Linked DNA regions of Homo sapiens. Changing the gene in region 2 together with the main gene of any one other region gives a genetic interaction. Each region holds a gene or a part of one and is shown on either strand. Other genes may lie near its edges. The genes, in order: MAP3K1, KDM5C, KDM6A and MTOR.

Region 1 (3,615 bases), on a different chromosome or scaffold from region 2:
TACAAGTTTTTTACTTTAAGATGGTGCAAAAGCAATACAAATTTGGTAAAAACCATACTTTGAATTTTGATTTTTGTCTGAGCTAGCAATATGTGCTATGATACACTGGTGATGCTAGGCAGTGGCAGCGAGTCACAGCTCCCAGTCAGCCACACAATCACGAGAGTGAACAACCAATACTCTATAGTGGACTGTGTTGTCAGATGATTTTGCGGAACAGTAGGCTAATGTAGGTATTATAAGCACATTCAAGGTAGGCCAGACTAAGCTATAATGTTTGGCAGGTTAGGTGTATTAACTGCATTTTCAACTTAAAAAAATATCATCAACTTAAAAGGGGTTTATCACGACATAACCTCAGCGTAAGTTGAAGAGCATCTGTGTATGTGTGTATTTCCAGGAGTTGATATTGTCAATGGTGTTGTCAATGTTAGTGACATACATAGTCACTTCTTGTTATTTGAGGTAGTTATGCTCTGTTAAGTTGCTACAAATATTGAATTAGCAAATACTAAAACACTGCTTCTAGAAGAAATATGTAGTGTGTTTATATGTATATGTATGTGTGTATATATATCCATCCATCACTTTAAAAACGTGAAATTCATGCATTTTACATAATTCAAAAATCTTAAAATCTAATTTACCATTTTCTTTTGTTCGTTTGTTTTTTGTTTTTGTTTTTGAGACAGAGTCTCGCTGCAGTGCCCAGGCTGGAGTGCAGTGGCACGATCTCAGCTCACTATAGCCTCCGCTTCCCAGGTTCAGGCAGTTCTCCTGCCTCAGCCTCCCAGGTAGCTGAGACTACAGGCACGCGCCACCATGCCCAGCTAATTTTTGTATTTTTAGTAGAGATGGAGTTTCACCATATTGGCCAGGCTGGTCTCGAACTCCTGACCTCAAGCCCACCTCAGCCTCCCAAAGTACTGGGATTACAGGCGTGAGCCACCACTCCTGGCCTAATTTACTATTTTGTATATTTTAAAAATTCACACCCAAGTCAGTTCAGTCCTGTCTGCCTTTCCTACTTTTTTATAACTCACAAATCCATTCTCTCCTTTTCCACCATAGAATAAGTAATGGTTGATATTCTTAGCTTTTCAGTAGATGTGATGGTTGAAATCATGGGCTTTGGAGTCACACTGACCTAGTTTTAAACCCTGGCTCTACCCCTTAATGGCCATGTAATCATAGGAAAATTATTTTTTGTGTCTACCCTCCATTTTCTCACATGTAAAATTGGTGCAAGAACCCCATGAAGCATGTACTTCGTGGGATTACTATGAAGATAAACAAAATTATACCTAGGCCTTAGTCAAGCACTCAGCCCACACAGTCAGCTCCACCTGCCATAACCTCCTCCAGTGCTCCCCACACTTATTATATAACCTCCTCAGTCACCTCTCTGACAATACCTGTTTTGTATTATCACCTCATTTCCTCTATTCTTTCAGACGTCCCATGTCCGTTCTCTACGTGGTTCAAATTCTTATTCTCTTTAAGGCCCCCATTTTGTGCTTCTCCTGCTTGGGCACCCCCTTTTTACTCATTCCAGATTCTCATAGCATTTTAGTACATACTTGTTTCTGACACTTTGTTTCTTGTTTGCTAGTTATGTTCCTATCTTGCTGCCTCTTTCAAACTAATTCTCCTTGAGGTCCATTCATGTCTGATTCATTTTCTTCTTCCCAGAGTCTTATACAGAAGTTGCTCAATAAATACTCATGGCTAGGATCAATTTGAAAGTTTGATGTTATTTTAAGAGTTTTGATGAGACCCTGGAAACAATTGTAAATAATTTTCAAATTGGCACAGTTCATATTTTAACAGATTTCATTGCATTCTCCTTCCTAGGTAGAGTTTAAAGAGAATTGTACTGTAACATTTTCAGTTTCCTTAATTTGGAGTAAATACTTTGAGGTTTTTGGAAGCACCCCAAAGCTTTCTCAAACACTTCCATACCCTGTTTATGGTAGTATAAATTGCCATAGCACGTTTTTTTAGAGAGTGATTTGGCAATATCTGCCAGAATTTTTAATGCACTTATTCTTTGACTCAGCTATGCCCATTGTTAGGAATTTACTCAAGATTACCTCTAGAAGTACCAAGTGCCAAGTTCAGGATTATTCACTCTACTCAAGAAAGTAATTAAATTATCCACACTATACAGAAATTAAACGAGTATGAAGCTGTTGGTGTTGATTTACAAAGTGCTACAAGATACATTAATAAGTGAAAAGAGCAAGGTATATAAAGTGATCCTGGCCAAGCACAGTGGCTCATGCCTGTAATCCCAGCACTTTGGGAGGCTGAGGCAAGAACAAAACTTGAACCCAGGAGTTGGAGAGCAGCCTGGGCATAGCGAGACCCCATCTCTACCAAAAAAAAAAAAAAATTAGCTGGGCATAGTGAGACGCACCTGTGCTCCAGGGTACTCAGGAGGTTGAGGTGGGAGGATCGCTTGAGCCCAGGAGGTCAAAGCTGCAGTGAGCCATGTTCATATCACTGCACTTCAGCCTGGGTGACAGTGAGAGCGAGACCCTGTCTCTAAATTAAGTTTTCTCTTTTGTAGACATTTTAGAAAATCTTAAGTCTGTGAATATATTGGCCTTTTTTCCTCCACAAAACACACACAGACACACACACACCCCCCCCCCCCACACACACACACACAAATCATCAGTAAGTTACATTTGGGGAAAAGAAGGAAGAGGGACTTTTTTTGTTTTGTATTTTTCCTTTTTGTGGTGTGTAAGATGTGTATATATCAGCTGAGTATATCATGATACAGGATCACAGACCTTAGAGGATTTTTCTTTATATTACTTTGCATTTTTTAACCCAAAGCATTTATGAAATTACTGGGGTAGGGAAAAGAGAGTTTTCTTGTGATTAGGAGTGGATAGGTGAGTTTAAAGTATTCAGACTTGATATTAGCCCTTTGTCAGATGAGTAGATTGCAAAAATTTTCTCCCATTCTGTAGGTTGCCTGTTCACTCTGATGGTAGTTTCTTTTGCTCTGCAGAAGCGCTTTAGTTTAATTAGATCCCATTTGTCAATTTTGGCTTTTGTTGCCATTGCTTTTGGTGTTTTAGACATGAAGTCCTTGCCCATGCCTATGTCCTGAATGGTATTGCCTAGGTTTTCTTCTAGGGTTTTTATGGTTTTAGGTCTAACATTTAAGTCTTTAATCCATCTTGAATTTTTTTATAAGGTGTAAGGAAGGGATCCAGTTTCAGCTTTCTACATATGGCTAGCCAGTTTTCCCAGAACCATTTCTTAAATAGGGAATCATTTCCCCATTTCTTGTTTTTGTCAGGTTTGTCAAAGATCAGATGGTTGTAGATGTGTGGGATTATTTCTGAGGGCCCTATTCTGTTCCATTGGTCTATATCTCTGTTTTGGCACCAGTACCATGCTGTTTTGGTTACTGTAGCCTTGTAGTATAGTTTGAAGTCAGGTAGCATGATGCCTCCAGCTTTGTTCTTTTGGCTTAGGATTGACTTGGCAATGTGGGCTCTTTTTTGGTTCCATATGAACTTAAGTAGTTTTTTCCAATTCTGTGAAGAAAGTCATTGGTAGCTTGATGGGGACGGCATTGAATCTATGAATTAC
Region 2 (3,615 bases):
CTTCAACATGCCCGTGCATGTAGGTGATGGAGGGCTGAGGTAGTGTTGGGCTAGGATCATAGGTATTGATGCCAGATGGTCTCAGCTCACCTGGATCAGTGGGTCCAGGGTGTGATGGGCCATAGTCATCTGCTACCTGTCTTCCCCCAGATGGTGCCCACAGAACTTGTGGAGAAGGAGTTCTGGAGGCTGGTAAATAGCATTGAGGAAGATGTGACTGTTGAGTATGGAGCTGACATCCATTCCAAAGAATTTGGCAGCGGTTTCCCTGTCAGTGACAGTAAACGGCACCTAACCCCCGAAGAGGAGGTGAGTGGATGATTCATGGTTACGTGTCAGCTGTGTGAGCTTAGGCAAATCATTTAGTATCTGAAAAACTCAGTATCTCTGTAAGATGAGGATAATTATGCCTGTCTTATGTAGCCATGAGATTTAGATGAGATGAAAGAAAACAGTCTGGTACCTGGCATGTACAAACATGAGATGGGTTCTTTCGCCTCTGTGAGCCCATTTCCTTATCTTTAAAATGGGGATAATATCTACTTTGCAAATTTGTTATAAAAATTAAATGAGAAGGTATATGAGATCCTGGCTCATCCATAAGTAGTGTTCAGGGAGTGGGGTTTGTATGCACAGGAGAAAATGAGGGCCTAGTTGTGCTTCCAAGAAAGGGTACATTTTGATCCAGAGCAGGATTTTTTTAACTTGCAGGTATTTTGGTAGGTGGATATATCGGTAAACTTCGTAGAAATTGAAGTGAATACAATTGAAATTTTGTGTGTATGCTTTTTGGTGGAGAGGTAGGGAGAAAACCTATATGTTTCTTAAGATGTTTCAAAAAAGTCTCTGACCTCAAAATTAAGGTTCCCTAGGCTAAAGAAAATGACTTAAGATCTCAGTTCCTTAGCATAACCCTCATGCCCTTTTTACAAATACCTGACCTGGCAGGAGTATGCTACCAGTGGTTGGAACCTAAATGTGATGCCGGTGTTGGAACAGTCTGTACTGTGCCACATCAATGCAGATATCTCTGGCATGAAGGTGCCCTGGCTCTACGTGGGCATGGTCTTCTCAGCCTTTTGCTGGCATATTGAGGATCACTGGAGTTACTCCATTAACTACCTCCACTGGTGAGTGGGACCCTGGGGAGCCAGGGAATCAAGTCAGTGTGGGCTCCCTGCATGACCAAGGTGTGATTTACTGTGTGTGTCCCTTTTCCACTTGTGCAGGGGTGAGCCGAAGACCTGGTATGGGGTGCCCTCACTTGCAGCAGAACATTTGGAAGAAGTGATGAAGAAGCTGACACCTGAACTATTTGATAGCCAGCCTGACCTCCTGCACCAACTTGTCACCCTCATGAATCCCAACACCCTCATGTCCCATGGTGTGCCAGTGAGTACCCAGGCAACAGGGACAAGCGGCAGGAGTGATTTAGTGATGTCCTTTGTGATGGTGGTGGTGGCGGTGGTTGTCATCTGTATTCTGCCCCTGGCCTTTCTTCATTGCTGTTCTTAATTGGGCTACGGGTTTGACTAGTCTAGTAGAGACCCAAAATAATAGTGATTAGATGCACCGTATGATGGTATGCCCTCTGGGCCATGTGTTTGACGGTAACAGCTAAGGGGTGGCTTATTATCACATCTACATTCCAGCCAGTGGAAGAGGGAAGTGGGGAAGTGCAGGGCTAGACAAATCTTTTAAAGGCACACATCATTTCCATTCACCTTCTGTTAGTAAAAACTTGGTCATATGACCACATCTAGCTGCAGGGAAAACTGGGAAATGTAATTCTTATTTTGGATGGTCAAGTACCACTTAAAACTGGAGGTCATGTTGTTATGACAGAAGACAAGAATGAATATCGAGGTACAACTAGCAGCCTCTGCCATACTTTGTATACTCTTACCCTTCTCAGAGCAGTGGATAGGTCTTTTTATTTAACAGGTCAAAAGTTGAACCCAGAGTTCTGGTCTATCCTCTGTGTACTTCTTTCTTACCCTTTAAAACATTTTGCTGGGTATACAACATGGCTTACCTGTGAGAGACTTTATATTCCTGGGAATTTCTAGCATTGATTAGCATCAGCCAGTTTTCTGGTGTGGATCTTAAAACAGCCTGATCACTAGTCCTGTAAGAACAGGAATTAGTAGATCCTCTATCTCTGCTTTAAGTATTATCCGGGGCTGCTACTCTTCCCTACACCCTTCCACGCTCTTTGGCCTTGGACACATTACCACTTACTCTAATGTATGAGATAGTCAATAAATACTGAATTAATGTCTCCTTCAGATATTCCTAGATATCTGTACAGTAGGGCTTTGGACTAGGTCAGTGGTTCTCACCTGCATTTCTTTTTGCCTTCTCCTTGTTTTGGTATACTATATGCCCCATGAGTAATATTTTTTTATTATAAAATTTAGTGATATTTAACCAAGGACTTGGGATATCTAGGGAATTGGACAGAAGGAGGTGTCCTATAACAGTTCAGGCAATCTTCCTCCACTCAGGGAGTTATCCTTTTCTCTCTCTACCTCACCCCATTTAAGGATGATGATCAAGGGCTTGAGTTCTGCTGCTTTACAAGTAGACATGGGGTCTGACTTTCCTTAGACTTCTCTCTTCCTGACCCATAGCACAGCATCAGTCCTTGTCTATAATGCCATGGAAAACTGTAAAAGAGGATTCTCTTGGCCAGGCACGGTGGCTCACGCCTGTAATCCCAGCACTTTGGGAGGCCAAGGCAGTCAGATCACTTGAGGTCAGGAGTTCAAAACCAGCTTGGCCGACACGGTGAAACCCCAGTCTCTACTAAAAATACAAAAATTAGCCAGGTATGGTGGCGCACGCCTGTAATCCCAGCTACTCAGGATCAGGAGGCAGGAGAATCGCTTGAACCCGGGAGGCAGAGGTTGCAGTGAGCCGAGATTGTACCACTGCACTCCAGCCTGGGCAACATAGTGAGACCCTGTCTCAAAAAAAAAAAAAAAAAAAAAAAAAAAAGAGCCGGGTGTGGTGGCTCATGCCTGTAATCCCAGCACTTTGGGAGGCTGAGGCGGCCGGATCACCTGAGGTCAGGAGTTCGAGACCAGCCTGGCCAACATGGTGAAACCTCGTCTCTAATAAAAATACAGAATTAGCCGGGCGTGGTGGCACGTGCCTGTAGTCCCAGCTACTGGGGAGGCTGAGGCGGGAGAATCACTTGAACCCAGGAGGCGGAGGTTGCAGTGAGCCGAGATCGTGCCATTGCATTCCAGCCTGGGCAACAGGTGGAGAGACTCCATTTCAAAAAAAAAAAAAAAAAAAAAAGGATTCTCTGAAGGATTTGGGTAGCTAAGAGGCATATATATATATATGTGTGTGTGTATATATATATATATATATATATATATGTATGTGTATATATATGTATATATACATATGCAGAAGGTCATGGAGCTGTTTAGTCCTTACCGCTTTTTAAAAAACTTTATCACAGAATCCAAAATACGTGCTTTTTGCTTACACCTCCACAGCATTTCTCCTGCTCGTGGCTCATCATCTTCTCTGGCCAGCTGCTACTTTACCACCCAGCCCTCTGTCTGCCCTGCCCTTCCTATAGGTAGTTCACAGCATCTC
Region 3 (3,615 bases), 8.2 Mb from region 2:
ATACTGGCCATTTGATATGACATCATGACATTTTTAATGTATCTTCAGTCCTCAACTAAATTGTAAGCTTCATGAAAATAGGGACTGGGTTTTTGTTTTTTTTCTTTTTCCTTTAGTGCCAAGAATAAGAAGATAATTTCAGTATTTATAATTTCAACTGTTATCTGTGTATCCATCATGTCCATCGTGTATATTCACATTAAGAAAATTACAGTCCTTGAATCGTTAATCTTACCTTGCTAACTTTACTAGTCATAAAATATTATACTTTATATTATTTTTACTTTTTACTTTATACTATTTTTGATACTTAGTTTGAGATTAACTATGTCTTACATGTGCATTTTTTTTATGAATTAAAGAATTATTGCCCTCAGTGTTGTTACTTGGGAAAGGAAAATTGAAATCTGATACAGCAAATCTTACCAACGTATATAGTGTTTTTGTTTTTAACTCTGTATTTTGACCATATAGGAAACTAGAGGTCAAGCTGTATAAGAAGAGTGGAAGAGTGCCGTGTGTGTGTGTGTGCACATGTGCATGCAGCTCTCAGTATTATAATATTGAAGTGATATGTCCCCTAATCATTTTAATAGAGTTCATTAATGCAGCATGCTTTTTAGCACCTATAAGACAGACTATAATATGGTTTGTTGGAGGGCAAATTATAATATTCATTATAGTTAACAAGTATATACATACATACACATAAATATATTAACTTATTAGGGTTTTAAAAAAATTTGCTGTGATATATAGTCCATCCTTTCAGCCGATTAATTTGTTTCAGTATTAATGGAATTCTCTTGATTTTTTTTTTTTTTCCCTTCCCTTCTCAGGTGCTATTCAAGTATTGGGAAAGTTCAGGATGCCTTTATATCTTACAGGCAGTCTATTGATAAATCAGAAGCAAGTGCAGATACATGGTGTTCAATAGGGTAAGCCTTTGTATAAAAATAGTAGTAATTTAATTGATATACAAAGATGGTTGCATCACATATAGTACTTCATAGTTTAAATCATTATAAAACCAAGCAGTTCTTCTGAGTTGACTTATTTTTTCTTAATTTCTCTTTCCAGTGTGCTATATCAGCAGCAAAATCAGCCCATGGATGCTTTACAGGCCTATATTTGTGCTGTACAATTGGACCATGGCCATGCTGCAGCCTGGATGGACCTAGGCACTCTCTATGAATCCTGCAACCAGCCTCAGGATGCCATTAAATGCTACTTAAATGCAACTAGAAGCAAAAGTTGTAGTAATACCTCTGCACTTGCAGCACGAATTAAGTATTTACAGGTAAAATTTTTAAATGGCAGTTTTTTAAAGCCACATATTTCCCCAGAACACTCAGGCAGAAGGAGGGTGGCTGGAAAGTTTGTCTAGTTGTGTTTTGATGTCTATAATCTGTTTCCATATTTTGTAAACATACCATAGCTTGTAATATTATTTTACTTTTCATTTTAAGTAAGATATGCAGTATTTTTAAAGATGCTCTTTTGCACATTTACTCTGTTGATGCATATTAATTTACATAATTTTTTTCTATGTACTGTCTACATTTTTAAGTTGTCATAGCATTTTATAGAAAACACAAACAGTCTTTCACTCTTGCTTGGAGTTTCTTGAGAAGACAGCTATGAGAACTCTGAAAACAGAGCTCAGCTTTGTTTTGATTCTCACAAAGGTTTATATTCCGGTTACCCTGTTTATACTTAGTGTCTTCTAAAGCCCCAAATTTAGAATCTATTTTCTTTTAAAAACAATTAGCTATAGCATTTAGGAAGATTTAGTGGACTTGCTCTTACTCAAGTAGGCTTGTGTTAAATTTGCTTTTTACATAATTTTTCCTAGGCTCAGTTGTGTAACCTTCCACAAGGTAGTCTACAGAATAAAACTAAATTACTTCCTAGTATTGAGGAGGCGTGGAGCCTACCAATTCCCGCAGAGCTTACCTCCAGGCAGGGTGCCATGAACACAGCACAGCAGGTGAGAAGTTGGGTTATGTTCTGCAGGTGCCCAGCTTTAAGGGTTCTTTTCAATTCTCTAGTGGTCAAGCTTAATTTACTAAGCACAGGAGGCTTTTAGTAATGAAAAGCCTTTTGATTTAATTGCAAAGGGAATCTAGATCAAAATAAAATTCCCTCTAATATGGGAAGAGATTTTGGGGTACCAACTTAGAACCTTTGTGCATTTTCATGATTTTGAAGGAGATTTCTTAAAATAATGCTACAGTGGTTTGTTTAATTTTTAAGGCAAGTTTTTCAAAGGAAGGTACACATTATTCCATTGATGAATCATTTAATTTTGATTTTCAATCATTGCAATCAGCGATGTCCACATAGCTTTGAAAAGTATGCAGCTTGTAAAGTTTTATAATTTGAAGGAATGAATTAAGAATATATAGAACCCTATTTTTGTCTTCCTTCTGTGATTCTTAGGCATGTAAACCTCATCATCCAAATACTGAACCTGTATTAGGCCTCAGTCAAACACCAATTTCACAGCAATCCTTGCCACTACACATGATTCCTTCTAGCCAAGTAGATGACCTGTCCAGTCCTGCCAAGAGGAAAAGAACATCTAGTCCAACAAAGGTATATGTTTTAGAGAAATAGAAAATCCCAGTCAAAAAAGAAGTTTCAGCTGCCCTGAAATTGTGCAGTTTGAACATTTCCTGTCCTTTATTTTAAATTTGTGGACATCAAAGAGTGAAAGGTTTGAGTTTTTCCATCCCAAACCCTTAGTATCATATTAAATATAGAAAGTAGGGATAAATTTGCATTCATCAAATCATTTTATTCATCTCCCTGCCGTTAAGATCCCAGCACACTTTTCATCATCACTTTTTACTGACATTGAAATAAATTTAATGTTGGATCTAGTGGACAGTGTGGTGTTTAGGCTAGCCGTTTGGGCCATAGTTTGAGGGTGGGCCTTTTTGGGTGGCTTATTAAATAGTCAGTAATTTTTAAATGTATGATTTCTAAGTTTAATATGCATGTAAAATTATTTTTTAAAGAATTTAATGTTATAACATCTTTTTAACATGTAAATATTCCAATTCATAGTCATTTGGCCTCCTCTAACCATTATTATTAACTGTGGATTTAACCAAATATTCTTTAATTTTTTTTTTAAATCGATTTTCCTCAGAATACTTCTGACAATTGGAGTGGTGGACATGCTGTGTCACATCCTCCAGTACAGCAACAAGCTCATTCATGGTGTTTGACACCACAGAAATTACAGGTATGTAAGATGTTTTTGACAAATTGTTTATTAAAAAGGAGTAGAGGTAGCAAACAAGTATTAATTTTTTTTTTTTTTTTTTTTTTTTTTGAGATAGAGTCTTGCTCTGTCACCCAGGCTGGAGTATAGTGGCACGCTCTTGGCTCACTGCAACCTCCGCGTCCTGTGTTAAAGTTATTCTTGTGCCTCAGCCTCCAGAGTAGCTGGGATTACAGGCACGCACCATCACACCCCGCTAATTTTTATATTTTTGGTAGAGACTGGGTTTCGCCATGTTGGCCAGACTGGTCTTGCACTCCTGACCTCAAGTGATCCACCTACCTCAGCCTCCCAAAGTGCTGAGATTACAGGTGTGAGCCACT
Region 4 (3,615 bases), on a different chromosome or scaffold from region 2:
AGGCACGAAGGGCGGCTACAGCTCCCTCACGGATGGCCTGTTTGGGGTCCCACACGGCCACAAAAATGTTGTCAAAGAAGGGTTGCACTTGCTGGAAGAAGAAGGTAGGGACGCTGATGGCCAGCTCACGGAGAACCAGGACCTGGAGAAAAAAGCAAACCGAGAACTCTCATTGGTACCAGAGTTTTGTTCTCTCAGGAGTACAGTCTCTTGTCATCTTAGAGCCATACACACCAGGAACAGAGAAGGCTTGCTCACTCTTCTAGCTAGGAAATTCTGAGGACAGAGGAAGGAAAGCAAAATTGATTAAACATCTCAGTGCTCATTATCCTAGGTTGTTTACAAACACAGAATGCTTGTAATGTTTGAACATAAGTTCTGGAAGTGCAGATGTGTTTTATGTTTTCTTTACCACTATACTAACAGCCTAGAACTCTACCTGGAATACAGTAGGTATGTAGTAAATATTTACTGAATGGATAATCCTGTTTAATGTTTAATCCTGTTGTTATTTTTATTTGACAGAGGAAGAAACTGAAGGTCAGAAGCTGCCCCAGGTTACAGAGTTAGGTAGGAAGTTGCAAAGCCAAGACTTGAGCCAGGGTCCAAGTGTGTGTCCTTTTCCTGGTACCGTGCCCCCTCCTCACAGTACTGCCTCCTCCGAAGGGCAGCAGACTGGAAAGCACGCAGCTGATGCTTCTGATCCCCACCACACCATGCTAGATTCCCTCTTAAGGACGGACTCTACCCCATCTCACAGCCTGGAATCCTAGCTCTTCTAACCAGCTTTTTTAAGGAATGAGCCTCAGAAGGAAGCAAAAGACCCCCCCATGACACCATCGTTCCCCAAGCCTGGCTGTGCTCCTCCCTGTAGACACTCACAGCTGCATGTCTCCGGCCCTCATTGCGGTCAGCACCCAGCCATTCCAGGGCTCGCTTCACCTCAAATTCCACGTACTCAGCGGTAAAAGTGTCCCCTGCCATGGCAAGACGGCCAATGGCCTTGGATGCCATTTCCATGACAACTGGGTCATTGGAGGGGAGGAGGTTCCGAAGATAGTTGGCAAATCTGCCAATTCGGGTGGCATTCCCACCTTCCACTCCTATGAGGCTAGCTGCAAAAGAGAGGAAGGCAAAAGGTGATGATGGGGCGTATGCTGGCCAGGAAAGTACGCAGACTTCAACTAAAAGCTGGTGAGTGCCGGCCAGGCACGGTGGCTCAAGTCTGTAATCCTAGCACTTTGGGAGGCTGAGGCGGGCGGATTGCCTGAGCTCAGGAGTTTGAGACCAGCCTGGGCAACATGGTGAAACCCCGTCTCTACTAAGATACAAAAAAAAAAAAAAAAAAAAGAAAACAAAAAAATTAGCCAGGCGTGGTGGCACACGCCTGTAATCCCAGCTACTTGGGAGGCTGAGGCAGGAGAATTGCTTGGACCTGGGAGGCAGAGGTTGCAGTAAGCCGAGACTGCACCATTGCACTCCAGCCTGGGCGACAGAGTGAGACTCTGTCTCAGAGAAAAAAAAAAAAAAAAAAAAAAAAATCTGGCGAGTGAACCCTCCATTCTACTTTGAGTACATTTCTAGATGGCAAGGACAGATACAATTTTCATTTTAACCCAGATATTTAATACTTGTGCCAGAAATATTTACATAAAGCAAAATAATCTCATGCTAGTATAATTTTCTCCCCTACCCCCCAAAAAGGGAAAACAACTGGGACTGGATAATAATTCACAGGACTGATGACCAGTCCTTAGAAGTTAAAAATGACCTGCCTGGCCAGTTGTGGTGGCTCACACCTGTAATCCCAGCACTCTGGGAGGCTGAGGTGGGCAGATCACTTGAGGTCAGGAGTTCGAGACCAGCCTGGCCAACATGGTGAAACCCTGTCTCTACTGAAAATACAAACATTAGCTGGGCATGGTGGCAGGTGCCTGTAATCCCAGCTACTCGGGAGGCTGAGGCACGAGAATCGCTTGAACCCAGGAGGCGGAGGTTGCAGCAAGCCAAGATTGCACCACTGAACTCCAGCCCCGGCAAGAGTGAGACTCCATCTCAAAAAAAAAAAAAAGACCTGCCTTTTATTAACTATACCGATTCCACTTTTCCATTCGTGAGCCCCACTATGCGAAACCCTGCTCTACTGAGGAAGCAGAGCCCACAAAAGGCAATATGAAGGAGTGGAAAGAAAGCTGGCTTCTAGTCTCAGCTCTGGTAAACTGTCTGAAAAGTCACTCGATGGTTCCGAGACTCCACTTCCACATCTAAAAATACGTTTTTCCTGTGGCCCAGGGCTGCTGCTAGAATTAAAAGCCACGGGCTTCTTAAATTTCATTAAGCAAATATGAACTAGTATCCAGTAAGTGGCAGACACAGGGTGCAGTGGGCACAAAGGTGAGTGTGTTGTTTTTGTGACCAGAGACTCTGTCCTTACCTATGGCCAAGATGCCACCTTTCCTCTCATTGGCATCTGAGCTGGAAACCAATTCAAAAATGTGATGGTTCAGTTGGTCATAGAAGCGAGTAGACTCCTCTTGACTCATCTGCAAAAGAAGATATAATCAGAACAATTTCTAATAATTCTCTAACTGTGGTGGTGGGAGTGGGCTGGCATCTAAAGATTAGATCCTGAGAGGCAGGAGGTATAGTTCAAACCAAAGAAGACAAGTTACTGCCCATTTCTATAGGATTACACTGTAGAGTACCTGAACTTGCAATCATCTGATTATTTAACAAATATTTATTAGGTATCTACTCTGTGGCAGAAAATGTCCTGTCCTAGGTTCTTTCTAGTACCAGGGATAAAAGGAGAAACAAGATACTGTCTCTGACCTCAAGTCTGGTCTCTATTTAGAAAGCCCCTAGCTCTCAACTCTCCAAACCCATCCCAATCACTGTTATCAGACAGAAAGCATTTGAGGGTGTGGTATGTGGTAAGGAAAAAATAAAAAGTTAAAAGAAACAGCTAAGTCTATTCTGGCCCCTAAAATGTGACCACAAACAAGAAAAATGCTACAAAAATGTGCAACTGCTGCAAAAGAACCTGCATGTTTTATGGATGTGACAGGTTGGGTGCCTTTATAAAATAATCTCTGTTTTCCAAATCCTCACTTAGCTGTACAAAAAAAAATGTAAACCAGTGATGGTACATTTAGCCCACACATCCCACAATGACTGGCCCCAGATCCCAGAAGCACCTCTCGGAGTTCCATGGTGACATAGTGCTGGAGCTCCTTGGCGGCTTTGGCCCTGGTTTCCTCATTCCGGCTCTTTAGGCCACTGGCAAACTGCTGCAGGACGCTCACATTGCTAGATGTGGTGGCAGCGGTGGTGGCGGCGGCAGGTCCGGTTCCAAGCATCTTGCCCTGAGGTTCTTTAGAGAGAAGTTTCCTTTAATATTCTGGATAAGAAAGTATGATGATAAATTTACTTATGGCCCTGGTCACCCAACACAGATCTCCCCCTAGCCCTTGTCAGGCAGGGGATTCTAAAAAGGTTGAGAGATCTGATTGAGGAACATTTAGAAAGCCTAGATTCATTAAACAATGACTGATGTTTAAAAGAGGCAGTGTAGTAGGGAGGTTAAATTGTGGGCTATCGGCCTAGCCTACTTGG

Evidence for each region.
Region 1: changes in KDM5C (region 2) and MAP3K1 together harm fitness more than expected from each alone (negative genetic interaction), as found in Homo sapiens cells (one large-scale study listed by BioGRID).
Region 3: changes in KDM5C (region 2) and KDM6A together harm fitness more than expected from each alone (negative genetic interaction), as found in Homo sapiens cells (one large-scale study listed by BioGRID).
Region 4: changes in KDM5C (region 2) and MTOR together harm fitness more than expected from each alone (negative genetic interaction), as found in Homo sapiens cells (one large-scale study listed by BioGRID).

Annotation. Positions count from the first base shown.
Region 1 is NC_000005.10:56,888,502-56,892,116, forward strand, and holds part of MAP3K1 (mitogen-activated protein kinase kinase kinase 1), read left to right. Parts: intron 1-3,615. UniProt on the Homo sapiens protein: Component of a protein kinase signal transduction cascade. Activates the ERK and JNK kinase pathways by phosphorylation of MAP2K1 and MAP2K4. May phosphorylate the MAPK8/JNK1 kinase.
Region 2 is NC_000023.11:53,208,191-53,211,805, reverse strand, and holds part of KDM5C (lysine-specific demethylase 5C), read left to right. Parts: coding exon 1-19; intron 20-150; coding exon 151-309; intron 310-948; coding exon 949-1,130; intron 1,131-1,229; coding exon 1,230-1,392; intron 1,393-3,615. UniProt on the Homo sapiens protein: Histone demethylase that specifically demethylates 'Lys-4' of histone H3, thereby playing a central role in histone code. Does not demethylate histone H3 'Lys-9', H3 'Lys-27', H3 'Lys-36', H3 'Lys-79' or H4 'Lys-20'.
Region 3 is NC_000023.11:45,058,167-45,061,781, forward strand, and holds part of KDM6A (lysine-specific demethylase 6A), read left to right. Parts: intron 1-839; coding exon 840-938; intron 939-1,080; coding exon 1,081-1,300; intron 1,301-1,855; coding exon 1,856-1,990; intron 1,991-2,442; coding exon 2,443-2,598; intron 2,599-3,157; coding exon 3,158-3,253; intron 3,254-3,615. UniProt on the Homo sapiens protein: Histone demethylase that specifically demethylates 'Lys-27' of histone H3, thereby playing a central role in histone code. Demethylates trimethylated and dimethylated but not monomethylated H3 'Lys-27'.
Region 4 is NC_000001.11:11,256,051-11,259,665, forward strand, and holds part of MTOR (serine/threonine-protein kinase mTOR), read right to left. Parts: intron 3,401-3,615; exon of another isoform or gene 3,374-3,400; 5' UTR 3,360-3,373; coding exon 3,198-3,359; intron 2,544-3,197; coding exon 2,435-2,543; intron 1,116-2,434; coding exon 883-1,115; intron 143-882; coding exon 1-142. UniProt on the Homo sapiens protein: Serine/threonine protein kinase which is a central regulator of cellular metabolism, growth and survival in response to hormones, growth factors, nutrients, energy and stress signals.